Linked DNA regions of Homo sapiens. The protein of the gene in region 4 purifies or fractionates together with the protein of the main gene of each other region. This does not show direct contact. Each region holds a gene or a part of one and is shown on either strand. Other genes may lie near its edges.

Evidence for each region.
Region 1: the proteins of ANKS3 (region 4) and CNKSR3 purify together in Homo sapiens (affinity purification with mass spectrometry; one large-scale study listed by BioGRID and IntAct). This does not show direct contact.
Region 2: the proteins of ANKS3 (region 4) and KIF2C purify together in Homo sapiens (affinity purification with mass spectrometry; one large-scale study listed by BioGRID and IntAct). This does not show direct contact.
Region 3: the proteins of ANKS3 (region 4) and BICC1 purify together in Homo sapiens (affinity purification with mass spectrometry; one large-scale study listed by BioGRID and IntAct). This does not show direct contact.

What each region holds. Positions count from the first base shown.
Region 1 is NC_000006.12:154,507,886-154,512,003, forward strand, and holds the start of CNKSR3 (connector enhancer of kinase suppressor of ras 3), read right to left. Parts: upstream 2,801-4,118; 5' UTR 2,230-2,800; coding exon 2,178-2,229; exon of another isoform or gene 2,054-2,177; coding exon of another isoform or gene 1,984-2,053; intron 1-1,983. UniProt on the Homo sapiens protein: Involved in transepithelial sodium transport. Regulates aldosterone-induced and epithelial sodium channel (ENaC)-mediated sodium transport through regulation of ENaC cell surface expression.
Region 2 is NC_000001.11:44,738,458-44,742,636, reverse strand, and holds the start of KIF2C (kinesin-like protein KIF2C), read right to left. Parts: upstream 2,801-4,179; 5' UTR 2,705-2,800; coding exon 2,635-2,704; coding exon of another isoform or gene 2,595-2,634; intron 1,725-2,594; coding exon 1,630-1,724; intron 1-1,629. UniProt on the Homo sapiens protein: In complex with KIF18B, constitutes the major microtubule plus-end depolymerizing activity in mitotic cells. Regulates the turnover of microtubules at the kinetochore and functions in chromosome segregation during mitosis.
Region 3 is NC_000010.11:58,788,872-58,792,371, reverse strand, and holds part of BICC1 (protein bicaudal C homolog 1), read right to left. Parts: intron 3,111-3,500; coding exon 2,916-3,110; intron 2,691-2,915; coding exon 2,439-2,690; intron 1-2,438. UniProt on the Homo sapiens protein: Putative RNA-binding protein. Acts as a negative regulator of Wnt signaling. May be involved in regulating gene expression during embryonic development.
Region 4 is NC_000016.10:4,710,272-4,713,771, forward strand, and holds part of ANKS3 (ankyrin repeat and SAM domain-containing protein 3), read right to left. Parts: intron 1-3,500. UniProt on the Homo sapiens protein: May be involved in vasopressin signaling in the kidney.

The DNA.
Region 1 (4,118 bases), on a different chromosome or scaffold from region 4:
AATACTCAACAAACATAACAGGATGTGATTTTACGCTTCTCCTTTTCCAATCCCAAGAGGGACAAAAACAACAACAACAACAACAACAAAACCAGACACAAATCTTGAGGGTGTGAAGATCTCACTCCATAATCTTCCTGTGCGCCTGTTACCATTTTTCTGATTGTACATTATCAACTAAGCTGGCAGAGGCTCAGAAAAGCCAGGGTGATAAGATGTAACCCTTTCTTTCTGCTACAGCAGAACTGTCCAATAGAAATATAATGGAAGCCACAAATGTGAGCCCTGTGTTATTTTAGATTTTCTAGGAGACATATGTAAGAAGGTAAAAATAAACAGGTGAAGCTTATTTTAGTAATATATTTTATTTAACCTAACGTATCAAAATACTATCATTTCCACATGTAATAAAAAGTATTAAGATATTTCATGTTCTTTTTTTTCATACCAAGTCTTCAAATGCCATGTGTATTTTAGACTTACAGCACATTGCAATTCTAACCAGCCACATTTCAAGGGCTGCAGAGCCACAAGTGGTACTGGTTACTAAGTTGGACAGAGCGGCTCTAGAAGTCAACAGTAGCTGAAATTTGCAGTGTCTCAAGTTGGCTCTATGAGGGACATACAGATAAAATACATATCAACTCAGTTTCAGGAAGCTGCCAGCCTAGGGAATTTGGCAGCATCTTGAATGGAGGAACACACCTCATTTCAAGCTAGCGTGGGCATGGATGGCTTTTAAGCTCATGCTTCCTACCAAGTACTGGCAATGCCACTTACTCTTTACCAAGGGAAACCTAGTCACCAAGGCAGAAACATGTGTTGTTTTTAGCTTCATTTTATATAGGAGTCCAGGAAATTCTGCTCACTTGACAAACCCGTTCTCAAGGAGTTCTCCCAGAGGAGCAGGAAATGGTCAGACATACCCACTGACACACCCCACACACCTCGGACATCCTATTCCACGTGGTCTATGTGTAAGTCACAGGCGTGAGAAATGAGATGTAGCGGTGATCAGTTTTCATTATGCTGCAGCCATGGGTGGGACGGTTTGAAAGACGACCTGGTCTTACCAGTATTACCTACCTCACAGGCTTACTGTGATGACCAAGGACAATAACAGAGAGAGCTCTTAGCAAACTGTAAAGCGCTACACAATTCTAGTTATTACTGAGAAAGAACACCATTCCTCACCTGGAAGAGCAGATAGAAAAACAAATAGTAACTTGAAACAGAGATGTCGTTGGGGGTGGGGGGAAACCATGAAAATACAGATTGTTCTTGGTGGACTTTGTTCTCTTGAAAGTACAGAAAAGGGTTGAGTAAACTCTAGTACCTTTCCCTCGAAATCGTAGGAGACATTGAAAAGTAAGCGAGCCAGCTAGGAGGACAAGCTTCTACCTCTGCTCATTCCCCCCACCACCCCCCCACCGCCCCAGCCCCACTGCCTTCCTCATCCCAAATATTGTATGAATCAAGACAGTGGTTCCAAACAATTATATTTCTCCTTCCCAGTGCTTACATGTGGCCTGAAAATGCAGCGCCACCGGGGATACTGGCGCCTCCCGGAGCAAAAGTCACTGCCTCCCGGGGAGTCCTGGCTCGAGGTTTCTCCCTGGCGCAAATGCTATGGTGTTGGCTTTTGCGCGGCCCTCTCGCCTTCTCCAACAAAAACAGACAGGCTCGGCGGACCCGCCGGAGTCTCCCTCTACCTGTCCGACAGCCCTGTCACGCCTGCGGACGGCTCTGGGCAGGCGGCATGGACGAGGTCCCGCGGGAGTCACCCACACAAAGGCACCTTGTGCCTCTGCACTCGGGCCCCCGGGTCGCCGGGCACCGCACCGGGGCCAGGCAGGGAGAGCGCCCCCCGGCCCGAGTGCCGAGTCCCGAGATCGGCATCCCCAGCCCTCAACCGCCACAGAAAGGCCACCCCTACTCCCTGGTTTAAAGATAGGGCTCCCCTCGGCTTGCCACAATCCGCACCCTGGAAAGGAAGAGCTCGGAGCAGGTACGAGAGATAGGAGCGCACAGGCCACTCGGCAGAAGTTTGCATTGTCACCGGGCTGTGCCCTCACCGCTTCTCGCCGGGAGGAAGGGCCAAGTACCCTCTTCCCCAGCTCCTCGTCCGCCCCATCCCCGAGGCTGGAGGACTCCGGACCCCCCCAAGGCCCGCGCACCTCTAGTCCAGTCCACCACTTGTTTGGGGCTCCACTTGGTCACGGGTTCCATGGTAAACCGCTTCGCCTCTCGCTGGGCTGGAGAGTCGCAGATAAAGTGCTGCTGCCTGCGCTCCGGTGCCCCTTCCCGGGAGGGCGCGCCCGCGGCTGCTCCCCTGCGCCCGAGCGACTCCGTCAAGACTGCATGGCCGCGGTCAGCCAGTCGTCCCAGCGCGGCTCCGCCAGGGGAGCCCGGCCCTCTCCCTCCAGCTGCCACAGTCCAGCTGCAGCTCCTCCTTCCCCCGCCGCCGCCGGGATCCCGGGCACAGCTGCTGCTCCCGAGCGACGGCAGCTGCAGGCACGCCGGGCTGCGACCCCAGACCCCTGGCCTCGGCTCGGCACGGGAGCCTCCCGGCCCGCGACCACTTCCTCGGATCTCTCGAGGCGCGATCGGCTCTCCCTCGGCCGGTCTTCTCGCCTGCTGGCTCTCCGGGGTCCCCGCTCCGCGTGCGCTGGCGTCCCGGAGCCTTCCCGGCGCAGGTCCCACCTCCTGCGCCGCCCTCCCGTGCCGCCCTGGCAGGGCCGAGCGCAGAGCGTGCGCGCTCGGGTTGCAAAGTTTCAGCTCCGGTTGCTGCAAACCGAATAAAAGAGAGGGCGGGGCCGAGGGTCTAGGGAAACTCGTGGGAGGGGGCGGGTCCGCCCGAAGCGGCGGACTCGGGTTACTTTCCCTCTCTAAGCCGGTCCGGCTCACACCCGCAGCGTCCCGGGCCCCGCTTTCCTTTTCAAGGGGCGGGTTGTAGATCGCGCGCGCACCCTGGAGAGCCCGCTGGTTTGTGTGAGGCCCTGGCCCTGTGGGTAGCAGAACACTCTGTCTCGCTGTGAGCAACAATACACTAAAAAAAAAAGAAAAGAAAAAAAAAAGTAAGATCTGCATGTTCTGTTCATTTTAAATGCTTTATATCGTAATACTACTCTGCCATTAAGCCGTCATTTTAGGTTTCTTAAAGTAGAACAATTTTTTTTTTTAGATGGAGCCTCGCTCTGTCGCCCAGGCTGGAGTGCAGTGGCGCGATCTCAGCTCACTGCAGCCTCTGCCTCCCAGGTTCCAGCGATTCTCCCGCCTCAGCCTCCGGAGTAGCTGGGATTACAGGCGTCTGCCACTACGCCCGGCTAATTTTTGTATTTTTAGTAGAGACAGGGTTTCACCATGTTGGCCAGACTGGTCTCGAAATCCTGAACTCAGGTGATCCGCCAGCCTCGGCCTCCCGAAGTGCTAGGATTACAGGCCTGAGCCACCGCGCCAGGCCAGAACAATTTTATTTCATTTATATGTTGACTGAAATCGTAACAATGTAACTCTTTTAATGCTATTGCTATGAAATTTCAACTTTGCGACTAAAATTAGATTGATGGCTTTTAGCGTTATATTTTGCTATATTATAATTTCATATTTACAGAGTGAGCTAATGCTCCTTGGGATTAGTCATTAACCGTGAGAGGAAAGCTGTTAGCCAAGAAAAAAAAAATAGCTCGTGCACAATTTCAGCGCCTGGCAGGGGAGGGCCCTTCCACATTCATGGACTGCAACTGGGGCCAGAGTTAATGCTAAACTGGGGGAAAATCTAATTTGAATGCCTGCCTCTCCTTCAAGTTCTCCCTGCATCCTAACCGCCCCCCCAACCCCTGCCACCCTCGCCACCACCCCTCCCCTCACCCCCCAACACCCCCCCCAACCCCCCACCCCCGCCCCGCCCCGCCCAGCAACCTCTTCCTCCCACTCTTTTTGGCACTGAATGATTCTTACTTTCAATTACGGTTATTTATTTACATCTTCCTCTTGGAGACTATTAACCCCTTGAGGGCAGAACCTACTTGATCTCATATAGAGTTTTCTCTCCTCCCTTTCTTCCTACCACCTAACTTGTAGCACCCAGCACGGGACCAAAGGCAAGGTTGGTATTT
Region 2 (4,179 bases), on a different chromosome or scaffold from region 4:
TGTGATCCTCCTGCCCCAGCTTCCCAAGTAGCTGGGATTACAGGCCCGTGCCACCACACCCAGCTAATTTTTGTATTTTTAGTAGAGATGGGGGTTTCGCTATGTTGGCCAGGCTGGTCTCAAACTCCTGATCTCAAGTGATCCGCCCACCTCGGCCTCCCAAAGTGCTGGGATTACAGGCATGAGCCACTGCGCCTGGCTGCAGTTTGCTTTCTACAAACATACCAGAGCCGGGCATGGTGGCTCACGCCTGTAATCCCAGCACTTTGGGAGGCAGAGGCAGGCGGATCACGAGGTCAGGAGATCGAGACCATCCCGGCTAACACAGTGAAACCCCATCTCTACTAAAAATACAAAAAATTAGCCGGGCGTAGTGGCGGGCACCTGTAGTACCAGTTACTCGGGAGGCTGAGGCAGGAGAATGACGTGAACCCGGGAGGCGGAGCTTGCAGTGAGCTGAGATCTCGCCACTGCACTCCAGCCTGGGTGACAGAGTGAGACTCTGTCTCAAAACAAACAAACAAACAAACAAAAAAAACCCAGAAAATTATTGATTGCTTCAATTTAGAATGGACCTGACTAAATAAAATCCCAATGCATCTGGAAGGGGACCATTCTTTTTTTTTTTTTTTTTTTTTTTGAGACAAGTCCTCATTCTGTTGCCCAGGAGGCTGGAGAGCAGTGGTGCAATTTCAGCTCACTGAAACCTGTGCTTTCCCAGACTCCAGCAATTCTCCAGCCTCAGCCTCCAGAGCAGCTGGGACCACAGGCATGCACCACCATGCCCGGCTAATGTTTTTTGTATTTTTTGTAGAAATGAGGTTTTGTCATGTTGCCCAGCCTGGTCTTGAACTGCTGAGCTCAAAGCGATCTGCCCACCTCGGCCTCCCAAAGTGCTGGGATTATACATGTGAGCCACTGTGCCCAGCCAAGAAGACCATTTTTATTTTTTGAGGAAAGGTCTCACTCTGTCGCCCAGGCCAGAGTGCAGTGGCTCGATCATGGTTCAGTGCAGCCTCAACCTCCCAGGCTAAATCAATCCTCCCACCTCAGCTTCCCGAGTAGCTGGAACCACAGGCGTGAGCCACCACACCCTGATAATTTTTAATTTTTTTGTAGAGACAAGGTCTCAACATTTTTCCCAGGCTGGTCTCGAACTCCTGAGCTCAAGCAATCCTCCAGACCAGGCCTCTCAAAGTGTCGGGATTAGAGGCAAGAGCCACCGCACCCAGCCAATTTTTTTTTTTTTTTTTTTTTGAGACAGATTCTCACTGTCACCCAGGCTGGAGTGCAGCGGCACAGTTTCGGCTCACTGCAACCTCCGCCTCCCAGGTTCAAGCAGTTCTCCTGCCTCAGGCTCCCAAGTAGTTGGGATTACAGGCATGCACTACCACGACTGGCTAATTTTTGTATTTTCAGTAGAGACAGGTTTCGCCATGTTGGCCAGGATGGTCTCGAACTCCTGACATCAGGTGATCTGCCCGTCTCAGCCTCCCAAAGTTCTGGGATTACAGGCGTGAGTGAGAAGAGCACAGCATCAGAAACTAGGCTCTCACAGATTCCACTTCTGCACAGATCCTTTATGTAGGAAGACATTAAATGTGGTAGAGGAATTCTCATAGAACCTACCTCTTTGCCCTTTGTGGCACCTCCTTCTGCCCATTCCACTGAAACACAGGATTTCTCCAAGTTCACAGTCCTTACATTGGCACTGTGAATTAAACCTATAAAGTATGAAAAAACCAGAGTTACCCATCTCTTTCCTGAGAGCTTCACTTTTAGGATTCCACAGAGATTCCCAAAGTGGAGTTAACCTGAAGGAACAGGCAGCTACCTTAAAAAAAAAAAAAAAAAAAACTAAGAGAAACAAATAAATCTCCTGGGCTTCACCTTTAGAATATCCACAGTGAGGTGGGCTGGGGACAGGTTTTTAAACTGAGCTGCATGGGATAAGGATTCACCCCTACTCAAGAGAGCCTACAAAAAAAGAGAGATAGAGCCTACAAAAGAGAACATACAAAAGGTATGTTTGAGCACAGGATTCCCCACAACCCTTAGATGAACTTTTCCTCAACATAGCATTGAGGATCTGGCCCTTTTGGGGTTTTCCTAACTCATTTCTGGCGGTCATATCTGTCCATTTCCCTAATGACACGGGTATCAGACCTGCCAGAACTGCGGTACCTGCTTAAGCAAAAGAGAGAACGACTACAAGCTCCTCAAGCGCAGGGTTCTTGTCTGTCCCGTTTACCTGACATACCGCAACTGCGCAATATTTATTCGAGAGTAAAGGGGCCAGGAGACCGAGGTCCCCATAAGAGCAGGGCATTTTCAGGGGAGAATTTTGGAAGGGAAGTGAATTTAGAAGTCCCAACTTCCCTGGGAGGTCTACCAGCCTTGGAGAAGGTCCGCCCACTCCCAGAGGACTGCGAAAGGGACCACGTACAGCGCAGGGACTCTCACCCCTGTGTAGGCAAGAATGACTGCCAGTGCAGAGACCCGGAGTGAGTGCGTGTGAAAAGGAGGGAGGGAGAGAAAGAGAGTGAAAGCCCATCTGTGTGTCCGGGGACGGGCAGTAATTTCAGTCGTCTCACCGCTCACGAGTCCCCTTGACCTAGGGACCCCGCTCCTCACCATTACTGCGTTGGATCTTGATAGCGAGACCGGGAAACAGGCGGGCCTGAAGCGACGAGTCCATGGCCATTCGGAGAGTCAGCAAGGAAGAGAAACGCGCAATACCAAGAAACCTCAATTTCGCTAACCCTACGAAGTCTTAACGCCGCGTAAACCGCCGCAGTTTAAATCCCGCGCGCAAGCGTCCTTAAAACGTCATTCCGCTGTCCCCGCCCTCGCTTCCGCCAGTCAGCGGCGCCCTGCGGAGCCTTGGGGGAGACGCAGTTCCCAACCATCTTCCTACGCTTGGCACCGCCCATGCGTCTGGCCACACCCCCGAGCGCTGTGCCTTCTGGGAACTTCGCCGCTACGTGGGGTCTGGGGCTCCCATTTCTGGTATTGTCCTCGGTCACCTTGTACTGCGGGGTTCCCGAAAACTGGGAAACTTCAGTATGTATTTGACAATGAGGGCTCTGGGATCCTACAGACATGGGTTCGAATCGTAGCTTCTTCAATTGCAAGTTCAGTGACCTCGAGCAAGTTGGAGACTTGGCCGGGCGCGGTGGCTCACTCCTGTTAATCCCAACACTTAGGAAGGGAGAGGTGGGAGTGATCGCTCGAGATCAGAAGTTCGAGACCAGACAGGGCAACATAGCCAAGACCCTGTTCTCAAAGCAAAACAAAACCACAGATTAGAAACTTGACTTAGTTTTTCTTATTAAATAGTGCAGAAGCATGTTGCCTCATTCAAGGAGTTATGTATAAATTTCCAGAAAGACACTGATTCACCAGATATTTATTGAGTGAAGTCTACCACCTGCTAGGCATGGTACCAGGAAATGGAGATAATGAACTAGACACATAGTTCCTGTCCTCCTTTTTTTTTTTTTCCATTTAACCCTTAGTGGACACAGCACATGTTTCAGAGAGCACGGGGTTGGGGGTAAGGTTATAGATTAACAGCATCCCAAGGCAAAAGAATTTTTCTTAGTACAGAACAAAATGGAGTCTCCTATGTCTACTTCTTTCTACACAGACACAGTAACAATCTGATCTCTCTTTCTTTTCCCCACATTTCCCCCTTTTCTATTCGACAAAACCGCCATCGTCATCATGGCCCGTTCTCAATGAGCTATTGGGTACACCTCCCAGATGGGGTGGCGGCGGGGCAGAGGGGCTCCTCACTTCCCAAATGGGGCAGCCGGGCAGAGGCGCCCCCCCCCCCCACCTCCCAGACAGGGCGGCGGCTGGGAGGGGGCTGCCCCCCACCTCCCAGACGGGGCGGCTGGCCGGTCGGGGGCTTTCCCCCCACCTCCTGGACGGGGCGGCTGCCGGGAGGAGACGCTCCTCATCTCCCGGACGGGGCGGCTGCCGGGCAGAGTGGCTCCTCACTTCTCAGACGGGGCGGCCAGTCAGAGACGATCCTCACCTCCCAGACAGGGTGGCGGCGGGGCAGAGACACTCCTCAGTTCCCAGACGGGGTCGCGGCGGGGCAGAGGCGCTCCCCACATCCCAGACGATGGGCGGCCGGGAAGAGACGCTCCTCACTTCCTAGACCGGGTGGCG
Region 3 (3,500 bases), on a different chromosome or scaffold from region 4:
ACCAATATAAATCCTACTTAACCTAATGCAGTTTAAACCTTTCCTCCTTCCTGGAGTAAATTGTTACTACTGTCCCTTCTTTTAACTACCTCATTTTTTAGATTTTTTTTTTTTCTCTAATGCTCTACTCACAGCCTCTGATCTACTGAGTCTAGGAACAATGTAATATACTTTCTCTGATGCACAGAATTTCCAGTGTTAGCCCACTGGGTGCTGGAATTTGTAAATGGATATCAGGAGAGGTTACCATTAAGCACACTAGGATTAAAATGAATTACTAAGCCGGGAACCATGGCTCATGCCTGTAATCCCAGCACTTTGGGAGGCTTAGGTGGGTGGATCACTTGAGGCCAAGAGTGCAAGATCAGCCTGGCCAACATAGTGAAACCCCATCTCTACTAAAACTAAAAAAATTAGCCAGGCATGGTGGCATATGACTGTAATCTCAGCTACTCGGGAGGCTGAGGCATGAGAATCACTTCAACCCAGGAGGCAGAGATTGCAGTGAGCTGAGAACACACTACTACACTCCAGCCTGAGCAACAGAGTAAGACCTCACCTAAACTAAAAAAAGAAAAAGAAATAAAATACTATGCTCCATTTCTCCTGTGGAAGAAATTGATTTTTTTTTTTAAACGGAGTCTTGCTCTGTCACCCAGGCTGGAGTGCAGTGGCGCGATCTCGGCTCACCGCAACCTCCACCTCCGCGGTTTGAGCAATTCTCCTGTCTCAGCCTCTTGAGTAGCTGGGATTACAGACCTTCACCACTATGCCCGGCTAACTTTTCTGTGTATTTTTAGTAGAGATGGGGTTTCACCATATTGGCCAGGCTGGTCTTGAACTCCTGACCTTGTGATACGCCTGCCTCGGCCTCCCAAAGTGTTGGGATTACAGGTGTAAGCCACCGCGCCCAGCCAGGAAGTGATTTTTATAAGAATAGTGCTATACAAAATGGTGATGGTATTTAAAATACGGGTTAAAGCCTTTTAATTTCTCCTTCAGTTATTTCAATGTTGTGCAATAATATGAGTCATTATTTTTGGCAGGTATGGTCAAAGTATAAATGTGCATTAATAACTGTAGAGAATATTTGAAAAATTTCACTAAACTAAAAAATAACATCTAAAGAACTTGTAAAGCAGAAAAAAAATGAAGATTACAACAATTCTTGGATATAAATATAAATCTGACTTGTAGTACAGTATATTAAAAATAACCTGATAAAATAAGCTCGGCTAAAAAAAATCATGACAAATTTCTTAAAATCGTGGATTACAATCTTACTGATTCCAACAAGTTCTTGTCTGTCAGAGGAATGGAATCAACAATAAAAACTTAGATTTTCTGAAAGTTTCTCAAAAATAAACTCTGCAAGTTAATAATAGTAAATGTCACACCTGAGGCTTACTGATTCAAATGCCACTAAAGGTCAAGCACTGAATGAGAGAATACAATGGTGTTTTTAATACAAATATTTGTAAGCCCAGCATCATGTCCATCCATTTTGTTACTACATTATCAACCCATACACTGGGATAGTTTATTTCATTCCATTTCATTTATTTCATTTTTGAAATGCAGTGCAGTGGTGCCATCTGGGCTTACTGCAACCTCTGCTTTCTGGGTTCAAGCAATTCTCCTCCCTCAGCCTCCTGAGTAACTGGGATTACAGGCACCTGCCACCGCATTGGCTAATTTTTATATTTTTAGTAGAAATGGGGTTTCACTATGTTGGCCAGGCTGGTCTTGATTTTGACCTCAAGTGATCTGCCCACCTTGGCCTCCCAAAGTGCTGGGATTACAGGCATGAGGTACCGCACCTGGCCGAGGGGTTTTAAACAAATATGGGAAGGATAGAAATATTGCAATTATAAATTAGAAGTAGTAAAGTAGTATTGAATTATAATATATAACTTTGCTTTTCTTCCTTCAATAAGTGACGCTCGAATTTGTGACTTAAATAGTATTTTTTAATTGGATCAAAGATTTATGAAATGTACAAATGTTTTGGGCTGACAAAATTTGTCTTTGATGGTGAAATTTAAATAGTATTTTTACTTTTCTGTTTAAACAGAGGACTTTTTTTTTTTTTGCCAAATACAAACTGCACACTAATATTACAGGTCAGATGAAAACAGTCACCTTCCATCCTTGCCACAAAATGCAGTCAATTATTTCACTATAATTCTCTTCTGTGTTTAGTCTAAGTTAAAAAGAAAACACTGAAATAAAATTACATATGCAATGAAATTAAACCTGTTGAGGCACTATGAACCTTATTACTCTTCCAGTTTATTTCCTTTTAGCAAGAAACTTCCTTATTTGACGAGGCTTCCGAAGTGCTTTCCTAAATATCACATTAGTACAGTGGATGGAAAAACATGCACTGAATCCAAAGAGGTTTAAAAAAATTGTAACACTTATTTCAGTAACCTTACCATGAGATATTGCCTTGCAAGACAGACAGACTCAATGGTGCCCTGGAGGTAGACGGTAGATTTCTTTTGTGGATTACTGGGATCAGGAAAGTGGATCTGAGCACCTGTTCTCTGCATGATATGTTTGATGTTGCTCCCATTTCGACCCATCATAAAGAGATGATGTTGAGCTGCAATATCTAGTTGTGTGCTCACAGGAATAGCTGATGCTAAGCTCCCAGCAAGATGTTCTAACAGCATGGCAGTTCCTTCCTAAGAGAAAAGGGTGGGAAAGAAATAATCCTATACATTAACTGTTCATATACGGGGAAAGATTCTATTGCATTTCTAACAGCTATGGAAAAATACAGCATATTCTGCAAACCAAAATGTAGAACGAAGGAAAATTCTGGAAATCAAATTAGTCTAATATTCTTTAAAAATGAAACTCATGTAACTTGTACATATAGGATGTGCAGAATTATCTGAATAATTTACCTTCACAGCACTAGTGTTATTCTGAGACCCTCGTACTATGACAGTAGCACCATACATTCGGGAACGCTGTTTAAATGATACTGAAATATTGTACGTTTGTGATATATGCTGAATAGAGGGGGAATTAGGATCAGGAACCGGTTGAAGAATTCCAGCAATTGGTAGCTCAAACATCAGCACCAAAGGAAGCAGCTCCTAAAATGAAATGATGAGAATCCAAAGCAGAGAGTTAAAGCATTAGACATTCAGACATGTGTATCATTCATTGGTTCTTTTCTGAAGATAGATTTTAAAGCATAAACTGCCCTTATAGATATTAAGTTTAGCTACATTATATAAAGTTTTTTTTTTTCCTTTCTGTTTTTTGAGTCAGAGTCTTGCTCCGTCACCCAGGCTGGCATGCAGTGGTATCATCCCAGCTCACTACAGCCTCCACCTCCTGGGCTCAAGGATCCTCTCACCTTGGCTTCCTGAATTAGTGGCACTACAGGCATGTGCCACCATACCTGGCTAATTTTTAAAAATGTTTTGTAGAGACAGACAGGGTCTTGCTATGTTGTCCAGGCTGGTCACGAACTCCAGGCC
Region 4 (3,500 bases):
TCACCTCGAAATGATAAATGTTTGAGGTGATGGATAAGCTAATCACCTTAATTTGATCATTACACAGTGTATACATGTATCAAAACATCACACACTGTACCCCATAAATATGTAGTTATTTTGTGTCAATTAAAAATGAGATAAATATTTTCCAGGTCAGGTGCAGTAGCTCATGCCTGTAGTCCCAGCACTTTGGGAGGCTGAGGCGGGTGGATTGCTTGAGCTCAGGACTCTTGAGACCAGCCTGGTCAACATGGCAAAACCACCTCTCTACAAAAAATACAAACGTAAGCTGGGCGTGGTAGGGTGCACCTACAGTCCTAGCTACTCGTAGAGCTGAGGTAGAAGGATCGTTTTGAGCCTGGGAGGCGGAGGTTGCATTGAGTCGAGATTGGGTCACTGGACTCCAGCCTGGGTGACAAAGCAAGACCCTGTCACAAAAAATAAATCAATATTTTCCATGCCAAAAAAAGATAATAACAGGAGAAAATAACCACTGAAACAGAGTATTTTATTTTGTTTTATTTTATCTATTTACTTTTCTTTGAGATGGAGTCTCGCTCTGTCGCCAAGCTGGAGTGCAGTGGCGTGATTTTGGCTTACTGCAATCTCCCCCTCCCGGGTTCAAGTGATTCTCCTGCCTCAGCCTCCAGAGTAGCTGGCGCACACCACCACATTGGCTTATTTTTGTATTTTTAGTGGAGACGGGGTTTCACCATGTTGGCCAGGCTGGTCTTGAACTCCTGACCTCAAGTGATCCACACGCCTCAGCCTCCCAAAGTGCTGAGATTACAGGCATGAGCCACTGCACCCAGCCTGAAACAGAATTTTTTTTTTTTTTTTTTTTTTGAGACAGAGTTTCGCTCTTGTTGCCTAGGCTGGACTGCAATGGCACGATCTCGGCTCACCTCAACCTCTGCCTCCCGGGTTCAAGGGATTCTCCCACCTCAGCCTCCCGAGTAGCTGGGATTACAGGCATGCACCACTACGCCCAGCTAATTTTATATTTTTAGTAGAGATGGGGTTTCTCCATACTGATCAGGCTGGTCTCGAACTCCCGACCTCAGGTGATCCGCCCAACTCGGCCTTCCAAAGTGCTGAGATTATAGGCATAAGCCACCGCGCCTGGCCCTGAAACAGAATATTTTAAAAGGAGAAAAAAATTGGCCGGGTGCGGTGGCTCACACCTATAATCCCAGTACTTTGGGAGGCCCAGGTGGGCAGACCACCTGAGGTCGGGAGTTTGAGACCAGCCCGGCCAACATGGAGAAACCCTGTCTCTACTAAAAACATAAAATTATCCAGGCATGGTAGCGCATGCCTGTAATCCCATCTACTTGGGACGCTGAGGCAGGAGAATCACTTGAACCCGGGAGGCAGAGGTTGCGGTGAGTCAAGATCGAGCCACTGCACTCCAGCCTGGGGAACAAGAGTGAAACTCTGTCTCAAAAAAAAAAAAAAAAAAAGGGAGAAAATATTATCTTGTAGACCTCTGCAGATAAGTCTGAAATCCTAGATGAAGTGATCTCTCAGGAAAATATAATTTACCAAAACTGACCCCATAAGAAAAGAAAGTATGAGGAGGCCAATCTCTATAGAAGAAATAGAAAAACTGTTATCGAGGAACCACCTCACAGAAAGAGACCAGATGGTTTCATGGGAGGATTCTATCAAAACTTCTAAGACCAGGTAGCACTAATGCTACGTGTATTGTCCTAGAACACAAAAAAGGAAGGAAAACTTCCAAATTATTTTTATGAAGTAAACACTGATACCCATACCTGATAGACAGAACAAAAATAGAAAAGTATAGACCACGCCGGGAGCGGTGGCTCACGCCTGTAATCCCAGCACTTTGGGAGGCTGAGGCAGGCGGATCACTGGAGATCAGGAGTTCGAGACCAGCCTGGCCAACATGGTGAAACCCCGTCTCTACTAAAAATACAAAAATTAGCTGGGTGTAGTGGTGCACGCCTGTGATCCCAGCTACTCGGGAGGCTGAGGCAGAAGAATTGCTTGAACTCAGGAGGCGGAGGTTGCGGAGGTTGCAGTGAGCTGAGATCTCGCCACTCCAGTCCAGCCTGGGCAACAGAGCAAGACTCCATTTCAAAAACAAAAAAAAAGAAGAAAGAAAACTATAGACCAGTATCACTTATGACTGAATATCCATAGAAAAATACTAAATATTAATAAACAGAATTCAAAAACACATTAAAATAGTACAACATGTGGGATTTATGCCAAGAATGTAAGGTTGATTCATTATTAGGAGGTTCATGAAGACAATCTACCATATGAAAATTCACCATCGTCTCCAAAGATATGGGAACACAATTCAATAGTTACTCCTGTAAAACACCACTCAGGAATAGAAGAACTGAGGAATACTTTGTTAATAAGCTAAAATAACATATGCCTTCCCTTTTACAGTCAGCCTCTCATGTAACGTGGCATTTCCACTAAGATCAGGACCAAGGTAAGGAGGCTCACTATCTCCACTATGTTGAACAATGAGCTAGAGGTGTTAGCAACTAAACAAAAGAACGGTGCAATTCAACAAAGTCAGAGTCATGAGAATCAGCAGGAAGCAGTGTATCCATCGATACTTAAAGATTATATGTTAGTACACCTGTAAAGCCCTAAAGAATCAATAACAAAACTAACCTGAACAATGTAAGAATTCTGTAAGGTAGCAGAATATAAAATTAGTTTGCAGGGCTGAGTGCAGTGGCTCACACCTGTAATCCCAGCACTTTGGGAGGCTGAGATGGGTGGATCACCTGAGGTTGCGAGTTCTAGACCAGCCTGACCAACATGGAGAAACCCCATCTCTACTGAAAATACAAAAAATTAGCCGGGCATGGTGGTGCACGCCTGTAATCCCAGCTACCTGGGAGGCTGAGGCAAAATTGCTTGAACCTGGGAGGAAGAGGTTGCGGTGAGGCAAGATCGCTTCATTGCACTCCAGCCTGAGCAACAAGAGCGAAACTCCCGTATCAAAAAAAAAACAAAAGTTTGCAGAAATCCACTGCCTTCAAATGCACTGACAATATGCAGTGAAACGATATAATGACACCACTAAAGGACTTATTCACGTATCCAACCACCACCTGTTCTCCAAAAACCTACTGAAATAAAAAATAAATAGCACTGAATAATTAATACCCTGAGAGTTGGGGGGAAAAAAAGGATATAATGATAGGGAAAACCCCATTTACAATAGCGACAAAGATGATCAAACACTTAGGAATAAACTTAAGTCACATGCAAAATGTAGATGAAGAAAAATTTAAAACCCTCCTGCAAGACCCAAAAGTACATTGGAACAAGAAGTCATCCCTTGTTCTTGGATAAGACAACAACACAAAGATATAGTTAATTTATACATTGTCACAATCTCAGTAAAAATATCAATACTGTTTTTAAGGAGCTAGACAAGTTGATATTCAAGTTCATATAGAAGAATGAACAAGCCATAGCTCAGGAAACAGTGAAAACAG